2 separate regions of the Homo sapiens genome follow, and region 2 is linked to region 1. The links come from fine-mapping of genetic effects on gene expression. Tissue or cell type: cerebellum. Region 1 holds a variant in brackets; the other region holds the start of a gene. All regions are shown on one strand. Distances are between the middles of the regions.

Evidence for each region. PIP is the estimated chance that this variant, and not a neighbour inherited with it, causes the effect.
Region 2: it holds the start of PCDHA7, and the variant in region 1 is the best candidate, but not a certain one, in a credible set for the expression of PCDHA7 in cerebellum (GTEx, PIP 0.61).

What each region holds. Positions count from the first base shown.
Region 1 is chr5:140,742,866-140,748,089 of GRCh38, forward strand. The region is part of intron 3 of LOC105378198 (a long non-coding RNA gene); the gene reads left to right. Among named protein-coding and RNA genes, the nearest start is that of PCDHA1, 41 kb to the right of the region's middle. The variant C/T (reference allele first, on the strand shown) is at 2,485.
Region 2 is chr5:140,832,399-140,837,622 of GRCh38, forward strand. PCDHA7 (protocadherin alpha 7) reads left to right here and starts at 1,871. Exons shown (of 4, transcript NM_018910.3): 1 at 1,871-4,340. The coding sequence starts at 1,986. The region is part of intron 1 of PCDHA1 (protocadherin alpha 1); the gene reads left to right. All of the region lies in intron 1 of PCDHA2 (protocadherin alpha 2), which reads left to right. The region is part of intron 1 of PCDHA3 (protocadherin alpha 3); the gene reads left to right. It also overlaps PCDHA4, PCDHA5, PCDHA6 and PCDHA@. RefSeq lists an enhancer at 3,164-3,811.

The sequences.
Region 1 (5,224 bases):
TAGCTTCCACCTGATTGCCAAGAGTTAGTGGCCAAGCCAGCTTTCTGATAACCAATCACGATATCACCCCCTTACCTTTCCCCAATCCCCAGTTTGTATAAAGACGGTACTAGGGAAAGGGATAGTTGTCAGAATCCTTGATAGTGGGTTGGGGGAAGGTTGTCACAGTGTGAGACCTTTCCTTTCATCTAGGGAGCCATGTGATGAGAAAGAATTCAGTAGGCCTCTGTGGAGAATGTGAGTGCCTGCAAGAAATGAAGAATGACATTTGGTACTTGGTTGGACAATTGGACTCATACATATATACATATATAATATATATATATATAATATTTTTTAAAGTCAGGAACCAATTATAGATCATGCATTGCTTTTAGTTGTCATGACATCTCTCCAGTCTCTTTAATCTAGACCAATCTCACCTGATATTCTTTTCCTTTTTGTGACAGCCAGTTTTAAAATAATTTTAAAAAGCTGTGGTAAAATCCATAATATAAAATTTACCATCTTAACCATTTTTAAGTGTACAGTTCAGTAATGTTAGGCACATTCACATTGTTGGGCAGTCAATCTTCAGGGCTGTCTTCTTGCAAAACTGAAACTCTATGCCCATTAAACAACAACTTCCCATTTTCCATCCTCCAGCTCCTGACAACCACCATTCTGTTTTCTGTCTCTGTGAATCTGACTACTCTAGGGACCTCATATCAGTGGAATCATATAGTATTTGTCATTTTGTAGTGTGATGGGATGATCTCCGCTCACTGCGACCTCCGCCTCCCGGGTTCAAGCGATTCTCCTGCCTCAGCCTCCCTAGTAGCTGGTATTACAGGCGCACACCACCATGCCCAGCTAATTTTTGTATTTTTAGTAGAGATGGCATTTTACCATGTTAGTCAGGCTGGTCTCGAGCTCCTGACCTCATGATCCACTGGCCTCAGCCTCCCAAAGTGCTGGGATTACAAGCGTGAGCCACCGTGCCCTGCCGGTAATTCTATTTTTAATTTTCTGAGAAACTGCCTTACTGTTTTCTAAAAAGGCTGCACCATTTTACATTCCCATTAATAGTGCACAAAGGTTCCAATTTCTGCACACCCCTTCCAACACTTATTTTCCCTCTCTTTCTGGTGTGAGATGATATTTATATGGTTTTAATTTGCATTTTTCTAATGATAATTGATGTTGGGTATTTTTTTTAGGTGAAAGCAAGTTTACTAAGAAAGTAAAGGAATAAAGAATGGCTATCCCCCAGGCTGAGCAGCCCCGAAGGCTGCTGGTTGCCTATTTTTATGGCTATTTCTTGATTGTATGCTAAACAAGGGGTGGATTATTCATGAGTTTTCTGGAAAAGGGGTGGGCAATTCCCAGAACTGAGGGTTTCTCCTAGTTTTAGACCATATAGAGTAACTTCCTGATGTTACCATGGCGTTTGTAAACTGTCATGGCACTAGTGGGAGTGTCTTTTAGCATGCTAATGCATTATAATTAGTATATAATGAGCAGTGAGGATGACCAAAGGTCACGTTCTTCGCCATCTTGGTTTTGGTGGGATTTGGCTGGCTTCTTTACCACACGCTGCTTTATTAACATGGTCTTTGTGACCTGTATCTTGTGCCGACCTCCTATCTCATCCTGTGACTTAGAATGTGACTGGGAATGCAACCCAGTAGGTCTCAGCCCTATTTTACCCAGCCTCCATTCAAGATGGAGTTGCTCTGATTCAAAGGCCTCTGACAGACTTCCTCCCTCCCATTTATTTATTTACTTATTTATTTAATTTGGAGACAGAGTTTTGCTCTTTTTGCCCAGGCTGGAGTGCAATGGCATGATCTCAGCTCACTGAAACCTCTGCCTCTCAGGTTCAAGTGATTCTCCTGCCTCAGCCTCCCAAGTAGCTGAAATTACAGGTGTGTGCCACCATGTCCAGCTAATTTTGTATTTTTAGTAGAGACGGGGTTTCACCACGTTGGTCAGGCTGGTCTCGAACTCCTGACCGCAAGTGATCCACTGGCCTCAGTCTCCCAAAGTGTTGGGATTATAGGTGTGAGCCACTGCACCTGGCCCCTCCCTCCCTTTTATAAGAAAACTCTTAATCCTAAGGGTTGTAGCAGGATGAAGATCCATGTTTTGTAACTTTTTCAGGCTGAATAGGGGCAATGATATTCCTGCCTAATTATTAGGGTCTCTTGTATTCAGGGTAGAGAGTAGCTCAATCAGAAAGCATCAGTATGTCAAGCACCATTCATAACCCTGAGTACTGATAAAAGGTGACATCTGGAAGATTAATAAGTGTTTAATTTGGGAAAACATTGAGTAAGCTTGTTCTGCATTCCTATGCAAAGAGCACAACACCAATATATTCCACAAAAGTAAAGCAAAATAAGTAAAGTTATCTCAAGTAAACTAAATAAGAAGGCTTTCCATAAGCTAGGCAACTGTTGGAACTGAGCTAATATGGAGTCACTAGCTGATTTCAATACATGC[C/T]CAGAATTAGAATATTGATCCACATTTTTATATCACCTATCCTTCTTGTTTCTTCTATCAGCCAGACACCACTGGTTGGTTTACAGGAATAAGCAGTCTAAATTGCAGACAAAAAACTCAAAAACAACTGATGAGACTAAAATCTGACAAAAGGTGTACCATAGTTCCTGAAACATATTTTTTCTCTCTCCAGTCTCCCATTTTTACTAAAGACAAATCATGGTAAGACCAATTTGCTTTAATATACTTGGCCTAATTATTTGTTTAAAGTGCAGCAAGAATAATTATTTGCCACATAGGCTTCTTTTAATTGGTTTTGATGGAACTCTGTTCCATAAAGAATCTCAGATAAGACTTTTTTTTTTTTTTTGAGATGGAATCTCGCCCTGTCACCCACGCTGGAGTGGAATGGTGCGACCTTGGCTCATTGCAACCTCCACCTCCCGGGATCAAGCAACTCTCCTGCCTCAGCCTCCTGAGTAGCTGGGATTACAGGTGCACGTCACCATGCCTGGCTAATTTTTTGTATCTTTAGTAGAGACAAGGTTTCACCATGTTGGCCAGGCTGGTCTTGAACTCCTGACCTCGTGATCTGCCTGCCTCGGCCTCCCAAAGTGCTGGGATTATAGGCATGAGCCACCGTGCCTGGCCTAAGTATTTTTTTTTTTTTAGATGGAGTCTCGCTCTGTCGCCCAGGCTGGAGTGCAGTGGCACCATCTTGGCTCACTGCAACCTCCGCCTCCTGGGTTCAAGCAATTCTCCTGCCTCAGCCTCCTGAGTAGCTGGGATTACAGGCGCCCACCACCATGCCTGGCTAATTTTTGTATTTTTAGTAGAGACAGGGTATCACCATGTTGGTCAGGCTTGTCTCGAGCTCCTGACGTTGTGATCCACCTGCCTTGGCCTCCCAAAGTGCTGGGATTACTGGTGTGAGCCACCGCGCCCGGCTAAGACTTTTTGTTGTTGTTGTTGTTGAGAGGGAGTTTCTCTCTGTCACCCTGGCTGGAGTGCAGTGGTGTGATCTCGGCTCACTGCAACCTCTGCCTCCCGGGTTCAAGCAATTCTTCTGCCTCAGCCTCCCAAGTAGCTGGGACTACAGATGCGCACCACCATGCCCGGCTAATTTTTGTATTTTTAGTAGAGACGGGGTTCACCATCTTGGTCAGGCTGGTGTGGTCTTGAACTCCTGAGCTCGTGATTGCTTTCCTCGGCCTCCCAAAGTGCTGGGTTTACAGGAGTGAGCCACCGCGCCCGGCCTCTCATTTTTTTTTAACAATTATATTGTACACCATTGACACTGTTCAGTAGATTCATCATATTTCATTCAGTCTCAGCTGATTACCATTGGGTTGTTTTCCAGTTATTTTATTATAAATGATGTCACAATAAATAACTTGGTGTATATAATGTTTAATATTTGTGAAGGTGTATATTTAAATTTTTAAAGATGGAATTGCTAGTTCAAAAGACAAATGCATTCATCATTCTTTGAAGATATTGCCAAATTACCTCCATTGTGGTTCTACCATGTTTTTCACTCCTACAAACAATACATGAGAATGCCTACTTTTCCACAACCTTATTAATAGAGCCTATTGTCAATTTTTCTAAATGTTTGTTCATCGGATTGATGAAAAATGATGTCTCAATGTGGTTTTAATTTGTATTCTTGTTATGGATGAAATTAAGCAAGTTATAATATGTTTAAAGCTCTTCTTTTTTGTTTTTGTTTTATACATTTACAGTACTGTACTGTATTTATCAATACTATAAATTTACAACATCTTTTTTTAGCTTATATTTTAAGTCCAGGGATACAATGCAGGTTTGTTATGTAGGCAAACTTTTGTCACAGGGGTTTATTGTACAGATTATTTCGTCACCCAGATATTAAGCCTAGAACTCATTAGTTAATTTTCCTGATCCTCTCCCTCCTCCTGTAAATCCCGGTGTCTTTTGTTCACCTCTATGTGCCCATATGTTCTCATCATTTAGCTCCCACTTAGAAGTAGGAACATGCAGTATTTGATTCTCCATTCCTGCATAAGTTTGCTAAGGATAATGGGCTCCAGCTCCATCCATGTTCCTGCAAAAATATGATTTCATTGTTTTTTATGGCTGCATAGTATTCCATGGTGTGTATATGTACTACATTTTCTTTATCCAGTCTACCATTGATGAGCATTTAGGTTGATTCCATGTCTTTGCTATTGTGAGTAGTTCTGCAGTAAATATGCATGTGTCTTTATGATAGAACAATTTATATTCCTTTGGGTATATACCCAGTAAAGGGATTGCTGGGTCAAATGGTAGTTCTGTTTTTAGCTCTTTGAGGAATTACTACACTGTTTTCCACAATGATTGAACTAATTTACACTTCTACCAACAGTGTGTAAGTGTTCTGTCTTCTCTGCAATCTCACCAGCATTTGTTATTTTTTCACTTTTTTTTTTTTTTAAGACAGGGTCTCATTCTGTTTCCAGGCTGGAGTGCAGTGGCATGATCACAGCTCACTGCAGCCTTGACCTCCCAGACTCAAGTGATCCTCCTGCCTCAGCCTTCTGAGTAGCTGGGACTGTAGGCGGGTGCCACCACACTGGCTAATTTTTGTATTTTTTTTATACAGATGGGGTCTTGCCATGTTGTCCAGGCTGGTCTCAAACTCCTGGGCTCAAGTGATCCTCCCTCCTTGGGGCCTCCCAAAGTGCTGGGATTACAGGCATGAGCCACTGCGTCTGGC
Region 2 (5,224 bases), 90 kb after region 1:
TATTTTCTGTTTTCTAAAAGAAGTACATGATAATTTTTAAGCGTGTAATTAATATTGCACTAAAATTTAAAAAAACTAACTCTACATACTTAAGAGTGGCAGAATTGTCTCTGATTATACTGAAGATCACCATTTGTGTAGCTAATGATATCTAACAGCCTCAAAACAGCATACTTTCTTAGGAAGTAGAGAACTATAGCGTTGCTAGTGAGTAAATGTTTTTTAAAAAGTTCCTAGGAGGGTCTTTAAGAGTATCACACTGTGCCTGCTGAGAATCATCGAATTAACAAGACCTGGCTTCAAATTTAATAGATAAATAAAGGTAAGTATCCTACATAAATACGATGATAGTAAAAGCAAGAATATTGTAAGAGGTGCTAGAAAGGTACATCATAGTGTTATTGGAATTGGAAAAAAATCTTTGCCTTTTTCCCTTGTTGAAGGAGACCGTGAAGAGTCATGATGTTTTACTGGTTATAAAATGGAAAGAGTTTTCCCTGGGAGAATATGGAGACTAACAGGTATTCATGAGAAGAGAGTAACTTAAGTGAGTATACAGAAAATTCCAAATGTACCTAGAAATGAGGAATAGTCCACTTTGGGTAAAGCACATGGTTCCCATAAGAGAGAGTGTGATATAAAGCAAGAAAAGTAATATGAGAAAAACCTTTTGTATAACTTTGAGTACTAGACGAGTAATTTTGACACTCTTCAAAGTCATTTGAAAGCTGTCAAAAAGTGTGAAGCAATACGAATAAAAAGTATTAACGGAAGATGACTGCAAGGATTAAATGAAGGAGAATGAAATAGGAATGGACAGGTTACACAATAAGAAGCTACTGCAATACACCAGGAGAGCAGCAATTATAAAAACTTATTTAGGAAAGCATCTGAATACAGACATAATTATTTTACATGCCATTGGGAACATTGGAGTGAAACATTCCAGAAAACGAACACAGTAAGGTAGATCCAAAAAGGATGAAATACCTCAAGACTTGATCAAAGGGCTGCTGTATGTGAGATGGCTGAGCACTGAAATTTATCTAATAAAATAAACTTACATTTTAAAAGAAATAATACAAATCATATTTGAGATTGTAAAAATAGGCATATATTCATAACACACAAGTGTTCGAAAGGATAGAATGAGGAAACAAATATAAAATGATGAACTCCTGAAACAGTATATATAGATTCTGCTAAAGCAAAAAATTCAGAATACTTCCTCCTCAAAAAGTTCACATGATACAAATTCTTCCCCTTCAAAGATTCCCCAAACCTTCTCTTATTTTGTTTTCCCAAGAGAAGTGTCTGGATAGTTGCTAATGTTTCTTGCCTCCTAAAAAGAAAACACACACACACACACCGCTTTCTAAGTTTCTCTTTCATCAATCAGTAGATTCTTGAGATCCTGGGTCCCTAAAAGAGTACAGGATTTTTCTTAACAAGCGATACTGAATCAAGAATATGAAGTTTCCTGGGATCTAGATCAAAGGAATTTAAACTTGCAGTTGTTTAAATTCATGTTGTCACTTAGGTTTCTATCTTTATTTAAAACTGTGTGAAAAAAAAGTTTTTCTAAGGCATGAGGAAGCTACAGTTCTGGTAACACTGAGTATTCAAAAGCCATCAGTCGCCTAAGAATGCTTCTAACAATCATGAGAAATGCTATTTTAACCTTTAACAACAATGAAGAAAAAAATTCAGAGTTTGAAATAAAACTTTTCATCTGATTAATAGTTTGTAATGGTTTGTAATTCTTACTTACATGATGGCCACATGATGTCGCTCTTTACCGCAAATTCTTTCGTAATCAGCAAAAGGAAGTCATTCCTTTTCGCACTGGAAAGACGCTCCACTCTCTTTCACTCTTTGGATGCACAACAATGGCCACACATCGAGATTGAAATGAAGGGATAAAAACATTCCTATAAATTCGAAGGCAAGTTTTGCTGACTAGAAAAACAAGCCAATAATTTGAAATGGTGTGCCCGAATGGATACGACCCAGGGGGCCGACATCTACTGCTGTTTATTATAATTCTAGCAGCTTGGGAGGCAGGGAGAGGCCAGCTCCACTACTCGGTCCCCGAGGAGGCTAAACATGGCAACTTCGTGGGCCGCATCGCGCAGGACCTGGGGCTGGAGCTGGCGGAGCTGGTGCCGCGCCTGTTCCGGGCGGTGTGCAAATTCCGTGGGGATCTTCTGGAGGTAAATCTGCAGAATGGCATTTTGTTTGTGAATTCTCGGATCGACCGCGAGGAGCTGTGCGGGCGGAGCGCGGAGTGCAGCATCCACCTGGAGGTGATCGTGGAAAGGCCGCTGCAGGTTTTCCATGTGGACGTGGAGGTGAAGGACATTAACGACAACCCTCCGGTGTTCCCAGCGACACAAAGGAATCTGTTCATCGCGGAATCCAGGCCGCTTGACTCTCGGTTTCCACTAGAGGGCGCGTCCGATGCAGATATCGGGGAGAACGCCCTGCTCACTTACAGACTGAGCCCCAATGAGTATTTCTTCCTGGACGTGCCAACCAGCAACCAGCAGGTAAAACCTCTTGGACTTGTATTACGGAAACTTTTAGACAGAGAAGAAACTCCGGAGCTTCATTTATTGCTCACGGCCACCGATGGAGGCAAACCCGAGCTGACTGGCACCGTTCAATTACTCATCACGGTACTGGACAACAATGACAATGCCCCAGTGTTCGACAGAACCCTGTATACGGTGAAATTACCAGAAAACGTTTCTATCGGAACGCTGGTGATTCACCCCAATGCCTCAGATTTAGACGAAGGCTTGAATGGGGATATTATTTACTCCTTCTCCAGTGATGTTTCTCCAGATATAAAATCCAAGTTCCACATGGACCCCTTAAGTGGGGCAATCACAGTGATAGGACATATGGATTTTGAAGAAAGTAGAGCACACAAGATCCCAGTCGAGGCTGTCGATAAAGGCTTCCCACCCCTGGCTGGTCATTGTACAGTTCTTGTGGAAGTTGTGGATGTAAATGACAATGCTCCACAGTTGACTCTCACTTCCCTGTCTCTCCCTATTCCAGAGGACGCCCAACCAGGTACCGTCATCACATTGATTAGCGTGTTTGACCGAGATTTTGGAGTCAACGGACAGGTTACCTGCTCCCTGACGCCCCGCGTTCCCTTCAAGTTGGTGTCCACCTTCAAGAATTACTATTCATTGGTGCTGGACAGCGCTCTGGACCGCGAGAGTGTGTCCGCCTATGAGCTGGTGGTTACCGCGCGGGACGGGGGCTCGCCTTCTCTGTGGGCCACTGCTAGCGTGTCCGTGGAGGTGGCCGACGTGAACGACAACGCCCCGGCGTTCGCGCAGCCCGAGTATACGGTGTTCGTGAAGGAGAACAACCCGCCGGGCTGCCACATCTTCACTGTGTCGGCGGGGGACGCGGACGCGCAGAAGAACGCGCTGGTGTCCTACTCGCTGGTGGAGCTGCGGGTGGGCGAGCGCGCGCTGTCGAGCTACGTGTCAGTGCACGCGGAGAGCGGCAAGGTGTACGCGCTGCAGCCGTTGGACCACGAGGAGCTGGAGCTGTTGCAGTTCCAGGTGAGCGCGCGCGATGCGGGCGTGCCGCCTCTGGGCAGCAACGTGACGCTGCAGGTGTTCGTGCTGGACGAGAACGACAACGCGCCGGCACTGCTGGCGCCTCGGGTGGGTGGCACTGGTGGCGCAGTGAGAGAGCTTGTGCCGCGGTCTGTGGGCGCGGGCCATGTGGTGGCGAAGGTACGTGCAGTTGACGCTGACTCAGGCTACAACGCGTGGCTTTCGTATGAGTTGCAACCGGTGGCGGCCGGTGCGAGCATCCCGTTCCGCGTGGGGCTGTACACTGGTGAGATCAGCACGACACGAGCCCTAGATGAGACGGACGCACCGCGCCACCGCCTTCTGGTGCTTGTGAAGGACCACGGGGAGCCCTCGCTGACAGCCACAGCCACCGTGCTGGTGTCGCTGGTGGAAAGCGGCCAGGCACCAAAGGCGTCGTCGCGGGCATCGTTGGGCATTGCAGGCCCAGAGACCGAGCTGGTGGATGTCAACGTGTACCTGATCATCGCCATCTGCGCGGTGTCCAGTCTGTTGGTGCTTACCCTGCTGCTGTACACGGCGTTGCGGTGCTCAGCGCCGTCCTCTGAGGGCGCATGTAGTTTGGTAAAGCCCACTCTGGTGTGCTCCAGCGCGGTGGGGAGCTGGTCATTCTCCCAGCAGAGGCGGCAGAGGGTGTGCTCTGGGGAGGGCCCACCCAAGACAGACCTCATGGCCTTCAGTCCCAGCCTTCCTCAGGGTCCATCCTCTACAGACAATGTGAGTCATAAATAATCTTGTTTCCAACAATTTTAAAACAATTAGTTCAATTGGTCTCCTTAAATTTTCTTTCATAATTTCTTTTTTAGTTGATAGCTTTATGTATAATTATTATTTTTTAATGTTATGCTGTATTTGCACTAATTATTTGGAAGTACGTTTAATATACACTTTTGTTTTGGGATGCGTAATACTATAGATCAAAATCTATGGTTTATGTTGGCTACTCTCCATTTTTGGAGGAGGACTTTGCTAACTGGAGCAATGGATTCACCTTTCTTCTATAGTGTATTTACAAAATCAAATATTTACATTTCCATATTTTGATAATCAATACCTATAAATGTTATAGTAAACAAATTTAATATATATGTTACCTAATATTTTATTCTATGTATTGTCCTCATTTTATAAAATATAGCTGTGTCAAAATCATCTGTTCAATTTTGCCTTTTTATCTTTAGTCTAGAACTTGAATTTTAAGCATTTCTTTTACATCTATTTATCTTCTTTTTATCATATTTGTGTAGCACTGACTTCTTTTTAACTTACTTTGTTGAGATGTATTTGCCATGTTCATGAAGAATTAATATGAACAATTTAAAATAGTTTAAATGGCAGTTTAATAGTATTTTTTATTTTGTTCCTTGTTTGTATAAGAAATATATTCACATTCAAAATTTCAAAGAGTGAAATCTAGTACGTAGTAAAAAATCTCCTTGCCTCCTCAAACCCCAAACCATTTACTTTACCTTTCTGAATTTCTGAAGCAGTTTACTTTTTTTGTATATTCCCAAGATTATTATTGCCAAATTATATAAATATATTTACAATCACCAAATTGTAAATCGCCAATATATATATTTTATAATTTGCCCCTTCCT